Regions from separate parts of the Homo sapiens genome. Here region 1 is linked to region 2. The links come from fine-mapping of genetic effects on gene expression. A gene starts in region 2. The other region holds a variant in brackets. All regions are shown on one strand. Distances are from middle to middle. Region 1 overlaps CNGA1 (cyclic nucleotide gated channel subunit alpha 1). Region 2 holds the start of NFXL1 (nuclear transcription factor, X-box binding like 1).

Evidence for each region.
Region 1: its variant is fine-mapped to the expression of NFXL1 in whole blood (INTERVAL, PIP 0.98).

What each region holds. Positions count from the first base shown.
Region 1 is chr4:47,988,705-47,996,995 of GRCh38, forward strand. All of the region lies in intron 2 of CNGA1 (cyclic nucleotide gated channel subunit alpha 1), which reads right to left. It overlaps LOC101927157 (a long non-coding RNA gene), which reads left to right. Exons shown (of 3, transcript NR_125879.1): 3 at 962-2,033. Among named protein-coding and RNA genes, the nearest start is that of CNGA1, 24 kb to the right of the region's middle. The variant T/G (reference allele first, on the strand shown) is at 3,737.
Region 2 is chr4:47,910,375-47,918,665 of GRCh38, forward strand. It overlaps NFXL1 (nuclear transcription factor, X-box binding like 1), which reads right to left and starts at 4,209. Exons shown (of 23, transcript NM_001278624.2): 1 at 3,991-4,209; 2 at 3,595-3,831; 3 at 450-620. The coding sequence starts at 3,829. LOC101927157 (a long non-coding RNA gene) reads left to right here and starts at 3,853. Exons shown (of 3, transcript NR_125879.1): 1 at 3,853-4,330. RefSeq lists enhancers at 3,077-3,763, 3,764-4,449, 3,960-4,189.

The DNA.
Region 1 (8,291 bases), 78 kb after region 2:
TCTGAGACAATTCATCAAATTGCCTCCTCAAAATAGCTAATGTGAGTCAATATATTCATTCATTCAGTGTACATTTATTTAGTACCTATTAACTCTTCCTCATTAAAAGACCTCAATTTGAGTCCACAGTACAGTCATCCCTAGGTATACGTGGTGATCGGTTTGGTTGAAAAAAATCCACATATAAGCGGACCCATGTAGTTCAAGCCCAAGTTGTTCAAGGGTCAACTTTAAATAGAATGTACAGGATTAAGAAAATGCTATTGTTCTTAGTTTTAAAAAAAAAAAGGATATTACATGCTAGACACTGGGCAAGGGAGTGTTCATTAGATCCCCTACTGTGAAAAGCAATTTGCCTAGTCAAGAGTATCACCTTGGGACATTAGACAAACTTTGGTTAAAATTTCAAATTTTCTACTTGCTTAGCTGTGTTACTTAGGTCAAGTTACGTCCTTCATGATTTCTTAATTAAATGATCAATCTAATGTGTAAACTGCCAAAAATGAGGTGCTCCATCTATGGTTAGATTCCTGCTAATGAGCAAACTATCTTTGGTTATAATTTAACTTCTCAGGTAGATTTGTTTACAGGGAAACTCATTAGTTACAGAACATGAGCATCCAATCTGTAAAACCAGACCCTTGAAAGTTAATTTTATATGAAATCTGTCCAGAATCCCTTAATCACTGAACAAGTAAATAAAATAAAATTTTGATCACACACAATTCTACCTCTGGGAGTTGTACACTTACCAGGGTACCATCATTCTACGGTAACTGAAATTTCAAGCCCCCTCATAAATTACTAACCATTATAAAATAAGTAAATTATTTATTATTGTGTCTGAATTTAAATGACCTTGAAAACTGATAAAATTTTGGTCAGTCTTAAAGATCTAAGAAAAGTTAAATAATCAAAATTTAGCACCTGATTTAAAAAAAAATTTTTTTTGTTTCCGTAGGTTATTGGGGAAGCTGGTGGTGTTTGGTTACATGAGTAAGTTCTTTTGTGGTGATTTGTGAGATTTCATTGCACCCATTGCCCAAGCAGTATACACTGAACCCTATTTGTAGTCTTTGCTCCCTCACCCCCTTCCCACCCTTTCCCCCTGATTCCCCAAGTCCATTGTGTCATTCTTATTGCGGGAAGTCAAGAACCCCAAACGGAGGGACCAGCTGAAGCTGCAGCAGAAGAACATAAATTGTGAAGATTTCATGGACATTTATTAGTTCCCAGAATTAATACTTTTATAATTTCTTATGCCTGTCTTACTTTAATCTCTTAATCCCATCATCTTCATAAGCTGAGGATGTGTGTTGCCTCAGGACCCTGTGATGATTGCATTAACGGTACAAATTGTGTGTAAAACATATGTGTTTGAACAATATGAAACTGATTGTAAAACATGGGTGTTTGAACAATATGAAATCAGTGCACCCTGAAAAAGAACAGAATAACAGTGATTTTCAGGGAACGAGGGAGGATAAAGGTCTGACTGCCTGTGGGGTCAGGCAGAATACAGCCATATTTTTCTTTCTGCAGAAAGCGAGTAGGAGAAATATCACTGAATTCTTTTCTCAGCAAGGAATAAACCTGGGGAAGGAATGCATTCTTGGGGGGAGGTCTATAGATGGCCACTCTGGGAGTGTCTGTCTTATGCGGTTGAGATAAGGGCTGAAATACGCCCTGGTCTCTTGCAGTACCCTCAGGCTTACTGGGATTGGAAAATTCCAGCCTGGTAAATTCTAGTCAGACCAGTTCTCTGCTTTCGAACCCTGTTTCCTGTTAAGATGTTTATCAAGACAATGCATGCACAGTGGGACATAGACCTCCATCAGTATTTCTAATTTTGCCTTGCCTTGTGATCTTTATTGCCCGTTGAAGCATGTAATCCTTGTGACCTACTCCCTGTTTGTACACCCCCTCCCTTTCTAAAATCCCTAATAAAAACTTGCTGATTTTGCGGCTCGGCGTCACCATCATGGTCCTACTAATATGTGATGGCACTCCCGGAGGCCCAGCTGTAAAATTTCTCTCTTTGTACTCTTTTTCTTTATTTCTCAGACCAGCCAACACTTAGGGAAAATAGAAAGAACCTACGTTGAAATATGGGGGCTGGTTCCCCCAAAACATTCTTATGCTTTTGCATCCTCATAGCTTAGCTCCCACTTACGAGCGAGAATATACAATATTTGGTTTCCCATTCCTGAGTTACTTCACTTAGAATAATAGTCACTAATCTCATCTAGGTAGCCATGAATGTCATTAATTCATTCCTTTTTATGGTTGAGTAGTATTCCATTATATATATATACATGTATATACACCATGATCTCTTTATCCACTCATTGATTCATGGGCATTTGGACTGATTCTATGTTTTTTGCAATTGCAAATTGTGCTGCTATAAGCATGAGTGTGCAAGTATCCTTTTTGTATAACAACTTCTTTTCCCCTGGGTAGATACCGAGTACTGGGATTGCTGGATCAAATGGCAGTTCTACTTTTATTTCTTTAAGGAATCTCCACACTGTCTTCCATAGTGATTGCACTAATTTACATTCCCACCAGCAGTGTAGAAATGTTCCCTCTTCACCGCATCCATGCAAACATCTACTATTTTCTGATATTTTGATTATGGCCATTCTTGCAGGAGTAAGATGGTATTGCATTTCGCATTGTGGTTTTGATTTGCATTTCCCTGATCATTCGTGATGTTGAGCATTTTTTCATATGTTTGTTTGCCATTTGTATATCTTCTTTTGAGAATTGTCTATTCATGTTCTTAGCCCACTTTTTGATGGAATTGTTTGTTTTTTTCTTGCTGATTTGTTTGACTTCATTGTAGATTCTGGATATTAGTCCTTTGTCAGATGTATAGATTGTGAAGATTTCCTCCCACTCTGTGGGTTGTCTGTTTACTCTGCTGACTGTTCCTTTTGCCAGGTAAAAGCACTTTAGTTTAATTAAGTCCCAACTATTTATCTTTGTTTTTATTGCATTTGCTTTTAAGTTCTTGGTCATGAAAACTCTGCCTAAGCCAATGTCTAGAAGGATTTTTTCAATGTTATCTTCTAGAATTTGTATAGTTTCAGGTCTTAGGTTTAAGTCTTTAATCCATCTTGAGTTGATTTTTATATAAGGTGGGAGATGAGGATGAACTTTTATTCTCCTACATGTGGCTAGCCAATTATCCAAGCACCATTTGTTGAAAAGGATGCCCTTTCCCCACTTTATGTTTTTGTTTGCTTTGTTGAAGATCAGTTGGCTGCAAGTATTTAGGCTTATTTCTGGGTTTTCTATTCTGTTCCATTGGTCTATGTGCCTATTTTTATGCCAGTATCATGCTGTTTTGGTGACTATGGCCTTATAGTATAGTTTGAAATCAGGTAATGTGATGCCTCTAGACTTGCTCTTTTTGCTTAGTCTTGCTTTGGCTATAAGGGCTCTTTTTTGGTTCCATATGAATTTTAGAATTTTTTTATAGTTCTATGAAGAATGATGGTGGTATTTTGATGGGAATTGCATTAAATTTGTAGCTTGCTTTTGATAGTGTGGTCATTTTCACAATATTGATTCTACCCATCCATGAGCATGGGATGTGTTTCCATTTGTTTGTGTCATCTATGATTTCTTTCAACAGTGTTTTGTAGTTTTCCTTGTAGAGTTCTTTCAACTCTTTGGTTAGGTATATTCCTAAGTATTTTGGTTTTTTTGCAGCTATTGTAAAAAAAAG[T/G]TTGAGTTCTTGATTTGATTCTCAGCTTGGTTGCTGTTGGTGCATAGCAGAGCTACTGATTTGTGTACATTAATTTTGTATCCGGCAATTTTGCTGAATTCTTTTATCAGTTCTATGAGTTTTCTGGAGGAGTCTTTAGGATTTTCTAGGTAAACAATCATACCATCAGCAAACAGTGACAGTTTGACTTCATCTTTACTGATTTGGATGCCATTTATTATTTATTTATTTATTTATTTATTTATTTATTTAGTCTGATTGCTCTGGCTAGGAGTTCCAGTGCTATGTTGAAGAGGAGTGGTGAGAGTGGGCATCCTTGTCTTGTTCCAGTTCTCAGAGGGAATACTTTCAACTTTTCCCCATTCAGTATTATGTTGGCTGTGGGTTTGTCATAGATGGCTTTTATTACATTGAGGTATTTCCCTTGTATGCTGATTTTGCTGAGAGTTTTAATCATAAAAGGATGTTGGATTTTGTTGAATGCTTTTTCTGCATCTATTAAGATGATCATGTGATTTTTGTTCTTAATTCTCTTTATGTGGTGTATCACATTTATTGACTTGCATATGTTAAACCATCCCTACATCCCTGGTATGAAACCAACTTGATCAGGGTGGATTATCTTTTTCATATGTTGTTGGATTCGGTTAGCTAGTATTTTGTTAATTTTAGCATCTACGTTCATCAGGGATATTGGTCTGTAGTTTTCTTTTTTGGTTATATCCTTTCCTGGTTTTGGTATTAGGTTGATGCTGGCTACATAGAATGATTTAGGGAGGGTTCCCTCATTCTCTATCTTGTGGAATAGTGTCAGTAGAATTGGTACCAATTCTTTGAATGTTTGGTAGGAATCTTCTGTGAATCTGTCTGGTTCTGGACTTTTTTGTTGTTGGTAATTTTTAAGTTACCATTTCAATCTCACTGCTTGTTATTGGTCTGTTCAGGTTATCTAATTCTTCCTGATTTAAGCTAGCAGGGTTCTGTCTTTCCAGGAATTTATCCATCTCTTCTAGGTATCCTGGTTTATGTGTGTAAAGGCGTTCATAGTAGCCTCGAATAATCTTTTGTATTTCTGTGATGTCAGTTGTAATATCTCTCATTTCATTTCTTATTGAGCTTTTTTGGATTTTCTCTCTTCTTTTCTTGGTTAATCTTGCTCATGGTCTATCAATTTTATTTATTTTTTCAAAGAATCAGTTTTTTGTTTCATTTATCTTTTGTATTGGGGGTTCAATTTCATTTATTTATGCTCTGATCTTGCTTATTTCCTTACTTCTGCTGGTTTTGGGTTTGGTTTTTTTCTTGTTTCTCTAGTTCCTTGAGGTGTGACCTTAGATTGTCTGTTTGTGCTCTTTCAGACTTTCTGATGTGTTTGGGGCTTTGAATTTCCTGTTAGCACCACCTTTGCTGTATCCCAGATGTTTTGATAGATTGTGTCACTATTGTCGTTCAGTTCAAAGAATTTTCAAATTTCCATCTTGATTTCACTTTTGACCCAGTGATCATTCAGGAGCAGGTTATTTAATTTCCATGATTTGCATGGTTTTGAAGGTTTCTTTTGGAGTTGATTTCCGGTTTTGTTTCACTGTGGTCTGAGAGTGCCTGATATAATTTCAATTTTCTTAAATTTATTGAGGCTCATTTTGTGGCCTATCATATTGTCTATCTTGGAGAAAGTTCCATGCACTGTCAAATAGAATGTATATTCTGCAGTTGTTGGAAGGAATGTTCTGTATATATCTGTTAAGTCCATTTGTGCCAGGGTATAGTTTAAATCCATTGTTTCTTTGTTGACTTTCTGTCTTGATGACCTGTCTAGTGCTGTCAGTGGAGTACTGAAGTCTCCCACTACTATGGTGTTGCTGTCTATCTCATTTCTTAAGTCTATTAGTAATTGCTTTATAAATTTGGGAGCTCCAGTGTTAGGCGCATATATGTTTAGGATTGTGATAGTTTCCTGTTGGACAAGGCCTTTTATCATTATATAATGTTCCTCTTTGTCTTTTTAACTGCTGTTGCTTTAAAGTTTGTTTTATCTGATGTAAGAATCCTGCCTGCTTTTGGTGTCATTTTGCATGAAACGTCTTTTTCCACCCCTTTATCTTAAGTTTATGTGAGTCCTTATGTGTTAGGTGAGTCTCCTGAAGGCAACAGACAGTTGGTTGGTGAATTCTTATCCATTCTGTAATTCTTTATCTTTTAAGTGGAGCATTTTGGCCATTTACATTCAATGTTAGTATTGAGATGTGAGGTGCCATTCCATTCATTGTACTACTTGTTGCCCATATACTTTGGTTTTTTGTTTTTTAAATTGTATTTTTGTTTTATAGGTTCTGTGAGATATATGCTTTAAAGAGGTTCTGTTTGATGTGTTCCCAGGATTTGTTTCAATATTTAGAGCTCTTTTTAGCAGTTCTTGTAGTGGTGACTTGGTAGTGGTGAATTCTTTCAGCTTTTGTTTATCTGAAAAAGACTGTATCTTTCCTTCATATATGAAGCTTGGCTTCACTGGATACACAATTGTTGGCTGATAATTGTTTTGTTTGAGGAGGCTGAAGATAGATAGAATCCCTTCTAGCTTGTACAGTTTCTGCTGAGAAATCTGCTATTAATCTGATAGGCTTTCCTTTATAGGCTACCTGGTGCTTTTGTCTCACAGCTCTTAAGATTCTTTCCTTTGTCTTAATTTTAGATAACCTGATGACAATGTGCCTAGGTGATGATCTTTTTGTGATGAATTTCCTAGGTGTTCTTTGTGCTTCTTGTATTTGGATGTCTAGGTCTCTAGCAAGGCCATGGAAATTTTCCTAGATTCTTCTCCCAAATATGTTTTCCAAACTTTTAGAATTCTTAGATTTGGTTGGTTAACATAATGCCAGACTTGTTGGAGGCTTTGTTCATATTTTCTTATTCTTTTTTGTCTTTGTTGGATTGGATTAATGCAAAGACCCTGTCTTCAAGCTCTAAATTTCTTTCTTCTACTTGTTTAATTATGTTGCTGAGATTTTCCAGAGCATTTTGCATTGCTCTAAGTGTGTCCATTGTTTCCTGAAGTTTTGATTGCTTTTTATTCTTGCTATCTATTTCATTATTTCTCCCTTCACTTCTTGTATCATTTTTTTTTATTTCCTTAAATTGGGCTTCATCTTTCTGTGGTGTCTCCCTGATTAGCTTAATAACTAACCCCCTGAATTCATTTTCAGGTAAATCAGGGGTTCTTCTCAGCTTGGATCCATTGCTGGTGAGCTAGTGTGATTTTTGGGGGGTGTTAAAGAACATTGTTTTTTTATATTACCAGAGTTGGTTTTCTGGTTCCTTCTCATTTGGGTTGGCTCTATCAAAGGAAAGGTCTAGGGCTGAAGGCTGTTGTTCAGATTCTTTTGCCCCACAGGGTGTTCCCTTGATGTAGTACTCTCACCCTTTTCCTATGGATGTAGCTTCCTGAGAGCCAAGCTGTAGTGATTATTATCTCTCTTCTGGATCTAGCCACCCAGCAAGTCTACCAGGCTCTGGGCTGGTACTAGGGGTTGTCTGCACAGAGTCCTGTTACATAAACCATCTGTGGGTCTCTCATCTGGGGATACCAGTACAGTATTTGGAGTGTTTCCTGGGTCCTGAAGGAGCAATCCACTTCCTTCAGAGAGGTCTCTGGGTACTCCCAGGTTTCCTGATTTATTCCTACAGTCATTCTGGTGCAAAAATTCATGACACGAGCCTCCACACACTGCTCTGTCTATCTGAGTCAGAGCTGCAATCTAGTCCTGCCTCCCATCCACCATGATCCCTCCTCTTAGGGAGTAAGTCCTCCAGCCCTCAGCATGATTGGGGTGGCCTCAGAGACTTGCAACTGATGTTGATAGCTCCTTGGAATATTGGAAATTTAGTGGACTTGAGATTTGCATCCTGGTTTAGATTTTGCATCCTGGTTTGCTAATTTAGATTTGCATCCTGGTTTGCTAATTTCTGACAGCACTGTAGCCTTGGGAAAATTATTTAACTGCCCTGAACCTTGTTGTTGCCATTTTTTATTAGCATAATGGGAATAGATTCTTCTAATCAAGGTATGGTAAATAGAAATGATTGACATAAAACTCTTCACACCAGGCCTGGCACAAATTGAGTCCTTAATTACAGTAAATATTAAGATTATTATTATTTTCCTGTGAGATAGTTCCTGGAGCTTATTATTAAATAATTCATTGTAATTGTATTAAGTTTCTGGTTAAATAACATAATCAAATACAAAGGGCTCAAAGAAATCCAGAGTAAGGAAAAAAAATTATTGGGGAAGAGAGTATGGTTGTACCTGAAAATTTTAAGATTTTAAGTCTTTTAGGGGCTGGGCACAGTGACTCATGCCTGTAATCCTAGCACTTTGGGAGGCCGAGGTGAGTGGATCACCTGAGGTCAGGAGTTTGAGATCAGCCTGGCCAACATGGTGAAACCTGCATCCCTACGAAAATTTAAAAAATTAGCTGGGCTTGGCACACATCTGTAGTCCCCCAGCTACTCAGGAGGCTGAGGCAGGAGAATCACTTGAACCCAGGAGGTGGAG
Region 2 (8,291 bases):
GTTGTAAATAAGATATAAAATAAGGAAATAAAGAATTAAAAAGACTTCAAGACGCATTTAACATGATGAAAAAAAATGAATAGATTGAAAGGAGTACACAAAGTACTCTAGTTCAATCAAATCATCACAACCAGAAAAAACTTGCCCCAGTCCACCGCTCAGGAGCTTTAGCAGCCCCATCCAAGCATTCTACTGAAATGCCAATTAAATACACACAAAGGCCTCCTAAGGCTATAAAAGAGCCACTGCCATTCTATTTGCTTTATAGAAAAATTAGTGTTACACAATATATAACTCAAATACCAAAGTGTACAAAAATTCAACTCTATAACATACAGTGCTCATCTTAAGATATAAAATCTATTCCATATAGAACAAAGGCATTACCAAAAAAATGTCAGGAATACAGTTTCATTGACGTCAAAAGTCAAAATTTAAAAGATCAGTACCTGTCTGAGTAGTGTATGTTATAAACGTATTTGCAAGTATTTTTCCCTGTTTTCCTTCAAAATCTTCATCTCCTTCTTCAGATGAAGAGCTAAACTGTTCTTCAACAAGTTTTCTGGCTGCAGCTTGGTTAGCTTTCTTGATTTCTTCAAATTTTTTCTGAGACATTAGCTCTGTTTAAAAGAAAAAAGTTTCATTTCTGCAAAACAATCTCTCAAAAAGAAAAGCATAATGTGCTAATATATCATTTTACAACACACATTTGAAAGTCACCTTTGGAGCATTCTACCTTCCTGTAATCCACGAGAAAAGTATTTTCAAATTCCTTGACACACAACTAAAGAGAATACCACAACAAAAACTTTCACTTTTCTAAGTATCCTGCTAAAATGCAGCAAATTTTTATGATAACGGTGATTAACAAATCAAGAAAAAAAATATGAAAATACAATAAAACTATCAAAATACTGGTGATCAACTTCAAAATAAGGACTAACAAAAATTAAGATGTTTTAAAGTACATTGTGCACAGTAATTTTTAAGAAGTGAGGGAACATGTCCACAGTGAGCACATAAAGAATCAGGGAAGGTAGGTATTTCAAACTACCGTCTTCTGAACAACAGGTAGGATAGGACACGACGGCCCAGCCCAGTCCAGTCCAGCCCTACCAAAGAGTTTGTACCAACAGTACTCACTATGCACCCACTATATTTACAATCGGCTTCTTAGGTCAAGAACTTTTTGCCTTTATTATGGACTTCTTGTGGTCACACAAAAAAACATATTTTACATTAATCCACACAAAGTATTAACATGGAAAACATGTTTCTTCCAACTTCATTCCAAAAAGAATGTTAATTTTGGATTCGTTCTTCCACTATTCAGCACTACCTGTACTTCTCATTTTGTTACTTGATTAATCATGCAAAACAAAACCAGATTACTTCACTGCACATACTCCCAAAGAAACTTCAAACTTCTTGAGAGCAAGGACCACAGGGATTTTCTTCAAGCACTAAGTGTTAATAAGCTCTTACGGACAGCAAACATAGTTTAAGAAAGGAGCCACAAACCTGCAGAACTGATCTGAGTTCATGAATTCCCATCTTGAGAGGATTTTAAATTTACTGATTGACTATTTTAAAATTAACATTATACTTAAAACTGATAAGCCACTACCAAGATAAGCTCTCTTATCTTGGGTGGTATATTCGTACTTGATTATGTTCCCTCATGAAACATTTTCCTTTTCTTATTGCAGCCAGTTTGGTTAGGGGTTATTAACAAAACAAATTGAGTATTTCAAGTAAACCTCGACGAAAATGTGTATCATGCTTACCTAGCAAGCTTTGAGTACTGGGAAAAAAGAACTGGCTATGAGATATATAACTCAAAACTTGTCACAAAAGAGATGATAAATGTCATTAATATACGGGAAATTAGCACTTAAAAGATACATAAGAAAACAGGCTGAACTGGACAGAGATAATGAGAACATTCATAACCTGATAAATGTATTCACCTAACATCATCTCAAAGTAAAGAGAAGCTGACAAGACAACCTTCTCACGTATTATTTCTTACAGCCAAATCTCAACTGTCCAGGTAGAGAATGCTTGTTTTCTTTTTCTTTTCTTTCTTTTTTTTTTTTTTTTGAGACGGAGTCTTGCTCTGTCGCCCAGGCTGGAGTGCAGTGGGGCAATCTCGGCTACTGCAAGCTCCGCCTCCCGGGCTCACGCCATTCTCCTTCCTCAGCCTCCCGAGTAGCTGGGACTACAGGCGCCTGCCACCCCGCCCGGCTAATTTTTTGTATTTTTAGTAGAGACGGGGTTTCACCCTGTTAGCCAGGATGGTCTCCATCTCCTGACCTCATGATCTGCCCGCCTCGGCCTCCCAAAGTGCTGGGATTACAGGCTTGAGCCACCGCGCCCGGACAGAATGCTTGTTTTCCTTCTACCCACGAGATGGAGACCATCCTGGCTAACACGGTGAAACCCCGTCTCTACTAAAAAAAAAAAACCAAAGAACAAAAAACAAAACATTAGCCAGGCGTGGTGGCAGGCGCCTGTAGTCCCAGCTACTCGGGAGGCTGAGGCCGGAGAACGGCCTGAACCCAGGAGGCAGAGCTTGCAGTGAGCCGAGATTGCGCCACTGCACTCCAGCCTGGGCGACCAGCGAGACTCTGTCTCAAAAAAAAAAAAAAAAAAAAAAAGTTTACCAAACCTGTTCACACGTCTCCATATTGTATACCTTATCATCACGGCCATTAACTGCATGCTAAGAGAATACCACCTACCTTTCAAATTAGCCTAGGAGAAAAATCATTCAAGATACTCAATTCTGCTCCACACCCCCCAAAAAAATGTATCCTGAAATGCATTCCAAACACAAAAATAAAATGATTTCAGGGATTATTCCCTCGGCCCCATGCACAATTGTGTGTAAGTCCTCCCTGGCTCCACGAAAACATGGTCTTGGATGAAAAGTATTGATATATCGGAGGCAACACCAGATATGTCCACAGAAGGACATGGAATTTGTAAATAGGAACTACAGTCAAGGAAGGTATCAAAAGCTCAAGTGCTTACAAGGAATAAGACAAGTCAAGAAACAAAGGCAAAGGTAAAGATGACAAATGACACCTGGCTCCAGAAATGAGAGAGAATGTGAGATGGAATGCCCAAGTCCAATCTAAATGGGATTTCTGTGACTCAGCCGAGCTGACTGTTGCCATGCACAAAGATAACTAAAGCCACAAGGTTGTTAACCAGATTTTTAAAAACGACAAACAACCGCTGACAATCAATCCACATTTAAAACTCTGTGTTAACCAAACAACATTATAGACCAAATCAGAACACCGGGCCACAATTTACAACTGATGGTCTGGAGATTCAAGTAGGCAAGAGTGGAGGGAAGTAACAAAGGTAATACCACCTAAAATTAAGATGAAAGAGGTGCGATGGAAATCTACCTAGAGTGCCGAAAAGAGCAGCCACCCGAAAGGCTGGAGAAGTGGGCCCGATAACAAACTCCCGAACGAGGGGAAAAGCAGTGAAAGAAAGAAGGCGAGGGCGGAGGCGGTCCTGACTAGTAACTGCCTTAGGAGGCATCCAGGTGAGCACGCGGGCGGGAGCCATTCTCACCGCTGGCTGCGGTAGTCTGCAGGGCTTGGGATCCTGCGGGGCTGTGCCTGCTCCCTGCAGCCGCCGTGGTCGCGACTCCTCCGGGACTGGTGCCAGAAGGAACTGCGCCCACCGACCCCTTCTCTCGCCCTCCTCCGGCGCCGCGGAGATGGACTCCATTTCCTGAGGGGGCGGCAGTGGCCCGTCCCCGGGATCGGCCTCGGCCACCGGCCACCTGGCGCCAGGAAGCTTCCATCCCTGCAAAGGAGAAAAAAAAAAAAAAGAGTGGAAGGAGGTGAGCGCAGCGAGGACCGAGGCGAAGGAGGGTCAGTGCGGAAACCCGGTGTGAGGGGCCGAGTGAGGAAGGTTCCTGCAGGGCGGCGACCGGGTTTTAGGAGGTCGCGGCCCTGCCTTTACCGGAGGGCGAGTCCCCGCCAAGCCCGGGCTTTGGAGATGGACCGAAGAGGGGAGGGAGGACTAGGTACAGAAATAAACCGCGGAGCAAGAAGCACACAGTGCCGAAGACAGAAAGCCGGAGGAGAAGTCGAAACCGCCTCCTCAGCCTCTGCGGGAGCGTGGTAGGGGAAGAGTCACAGACTGACCCTGCGTCTCCCGCCGGGAACCAACTGCAGTGGTACACCCCACGGAAAGCTACGTCTCCTTACCGACTGCGCACGCCCCCAACAGACTACAACTCCCAGAAGCCCCCGCCCGCGTTCCGGCGACTGCGTGGCAGCACGGGCCGCTTCCTTATCCGGTAAAGTGCGGGGGTTGGGTGGGAGGGAAACCCCAAGCGCCTGCGCTGGCCCGAACAGGCCTTTGGGAACTACAACTCCCGGCGTGCTCTGGGGCTAGGGAGGGGTCGAAGGTCATAGGGGCGCGTGGTGGTGGAGGCGGGCGGGTCCGGAGGGTTTCGTGACCCCACAATTTGCTTCTGCTTCTGCAAGACTGCCCTAAACTCACCTGGGTATGAGGATTACATGGCTCTGTCCCTAATTGGCTCTCTGCCATCTTTTATTAGCCTTGCCTTTGAGCTTGCGGATGACAGGAGGTGTCAATGTAAAATAATCAAAAGCGCGAAGTTTGAGGATAGCCTACCTAGAAACACCGACTCCAAGGAAGGAGTCAGCGTTCCGAAGTAGAGATTTAAGATTTCACTTATATAGGCAGAAACTGAGAGGTTTTTTAGCAGGATTACAGCATTTTCTCATACAAGGTTAGAGAATAGTTACAACAATTTGATTATAGACAGTGTTTCTTTTTGGGAAGTGTACATTTAACATTTTTCATAAAGGATTTTCTGTCATCTGGTCTAAGCAAACCGGGGCAACAAAGCAGAAGTTAATCTATAAGGATCATTAAGAAGGCAGGAAGTTTTTGTCCTTAACTTCGTTTAATTCTCTCTAGCCATTGTATAGAACAAGAAAAATAAGAAAGCAAGTTAATCTATAATCTGAGAAACAGAAGTTGTAACCACGTGTAACTCAGATGACAGTCACATCTCTCTCCAGGCTTAGTGAGTTTTAGGCTCCAACAACCTTTAAACTATTTATTTTCATAGGGAAGTCTCACTAACAGGAAAGGCACTTACATTGAAAACGCTTTGAGGTTGGCCACTGTGAAGGAGGGAAATTCGGGGGAGAGTTGCAGGAAAGTGGCTTGAGTAGTAAAAGTACCCTTCTAAAATGCTAGAGCCAATGTAGAAAATAAATCTAAAGCCTGTTATTGTCATAGTCCTTTGTAGTGTGCAATGAGCTTTCCCTGGGACATGCTAATTTTTACCTTCACAGCATCTCCCTAAAGTAGATTTTGTTAAGGAAAATAGTTGAGGGCCAGGACCTAAATCTTATGATTTTGCTGAGTTTTCCAATAAGATACATGTGCATATATACTGACAGGTAGATTGCAAAAATTCATTCTGGGGTCTGTCTGGGATTGAGAAACATATTGATGGCTTATTGTACAGTCCTTCAACTTAGTTAATTCTTCTATTTTAACCATAAATTTCTATTATAATATTTAGATAGCATTTATTAGATGTCAGGCACTGTTTAAAGTGTTTTACGTTATGTATTAACTAATTTGGTACTCACAGTAACCGTGTTTATTATCCCCGTTTTACAACTGAGAACACTGAGGCACAGAGAGATTAAGCAATTTGCCCTTGATCATACAGCTAGGAAGTAGTGAAGCCAAGATTCAATCCTAAGTAGTCTAGTATTAGAAACCATGCTTTTAATGTCTTAAACATAGATATTGCAGAATTGCCTGTACATTAACCAAACTCAAAAATGACATCCCATGGCCAGGCATGGTGGCTCACGCCTGTAATCCTAGTACTTTGGGATGCCAAGGCGGGTGGATCACCTTAGGTCAGGAGTTTGAGGCAAGCCTGGCCAACATGGCGAAACCCTGTCTCTATTAAACATACAAAAATTAGCTGGGCATGGTGGTGGGTGCCTATAATCACAGCTACTAGGGAGGCTGAGGCAGGAGAATTGTTTGAACCCAGGGGGCGGAGGTTGTAATGAGCCAAGATCGCGCCACTTCACTCCAGCCTGGGCAAAAGAGCAAAACTCCGTCTCAGAAAAATGAAAAGAAGAAAAGAAATAACATCTCTGAGAATGATATAACTTCATTGGCTAGAAACTAACAGGTGCACAGCAACTCTCTTAATGCTGCACTTGTATAAGAACTGTAAGTTTAAAGCTGCAACCAGCTTTCAAAGTTTGAAAACCCTAAAGTGAGACTTTTCTTCAGTGGGGTTTTCACATACAGGAAAGGAGCTGTTATACTCTGAGAGAGAATATAGTAATTATCACTGAGTAATGTCCAAGAAGTATTGAGTGGCTACTAAAAAGAGAGATCCTTCTTAGAATTATGTTATATGCCAGAGAGCTGGACTAGCATATTATCTAAATTTCCATGTCAAACTTTATTGAGAAATTTTTTCTGTTCCCTCAAATATTCAATAGCTAATAACAGTGACCAGCAATCCTTGAGTGCTTTCTATGTGCCAGCATTCTTCTAGGTCCTTTTTTCTTTTACTCATCTAATCTTCACAATAACCATGAAGTAGGTATTGTTATCGTCAAAACAATTTTTTTTTATTATACTTTAAGTTCTAGGGTACGTGTGCACAATGTGCAAGTTTCTTACATAGGTATACATGTGCAATGTTGGTTGGCTGCACACATCAACTTGTCATTTACATTAGGTATTTCTCCTAAAGCTATCCCTCCACCAGCCCCCCACCCTGCAACAGGCCCTTGTGTGCGATGTTCCCCTCCATGTGTCCATGTGTTCTCAGTGTTCAACTCCCACTTATGAGTGAGAACATGTGGTGTTTGGTCTTCTGTCCTTGTGATATTTTGCTGAGAATGATGGTTTCCAGCTTCATCCATGTCCCTGCAAAGGACATGAACTCATCCTTTTTTATGGCTGCATAGTATTCCATGGTGTATATATGGCACATTTTCTTTATCCAGTCTATTATTGATGGACATTTGGGTTGGTTCTAAGTCTTTGCTATTGTGAATAGTGCCTCAGTAAACATGCCTGTGCATGTATCTTTATAGTAGCATGATTTATAATCCTTTGGGTATATACCCAGTAATGGGATTGCTGGGTCAAATGGTATTTCTAGTTCTAGATCCTTGAGGAATCGCCACACTGTCTTCCACAATGGTTGAAATCATTTACACTCCCAAGAACAGTGTGAAAGCATTCCTATTTCTCCACATCTTCTCCAGCATCTGTTGTTTCCTGACTTTTTAATGATTGCCATTCTAACTGGCGTGAGATGGTATCTCATTGTGGTTTTGATTTGCATTTCTCTGATAACCAGTGATGATGAGCATTTTTTCATATGTCTGCTGGCTGCATAAATGTCTTCTTTTGAGAAGCGTCTATCCATATATTTTGCCCACTTTTTGATGGGGTTGTTTTTTCTTGTACTTTTGTTTAAGTTCTTTGTAGATTCTGGATATTAGCCCTTTGTCAGATGGATAGATTGCAAAAATTTTCACCCATTCTGTAGGTTGCCTGTTCACTCTGATGATAGTTTATTTTGCTGTGCAGAAGCTCTTTAGTTTAATTAGATCCCATGTGTCTATTTTGGCCTTTGTTGCCATTGCTTTTGGTGTTTTAGTTATGAAGTCTTTGCCCGTGCCTGTGTCCTGAATTGCATTGTCTAGGTATTCTTTTAGGGTTTTTATGGTTTTAGGTCTTACATTTAAGTCTTTAATCCATCTTGAGTTAATCTTTGTGTAAGGTGTAAGGAAGGAATCCAGTTTCAATTTTCTATATATGGCTAGCCAGTTTTCCCAGCACCATTTATTAAATAGGGAATCCTTTCCCCATTTCTTGTTTTTGTCAGGTTTGTCAAAGATCAGATGGTTGTAGATGTGTGGTGTTGTTTCTGAGGCCTCTGTTCTGTTCTATTGGTCTATCTCTCTGTTTTGGTACCAATGCCATGCTGTTTTGATTACTGTAGCCTTGTAGTATAGTTTGAAGTCTGGTAGCCTGATGCCTCCAGCTTTGTTCTTTTTGCTTAGGATTGTCTTGGCTATGTGGGCTCTTTTTTGGTTCCATATGAACTTTAAAGTAGTTTTTTCCAATTCTGTGAGGAAAGTCAGTGGTAGCTTGATGGGGATAGCATTGAATCTATAAATTACCTTAGGCTGTATGGCCATTTTCACGATATTGAGTCTTCCTAT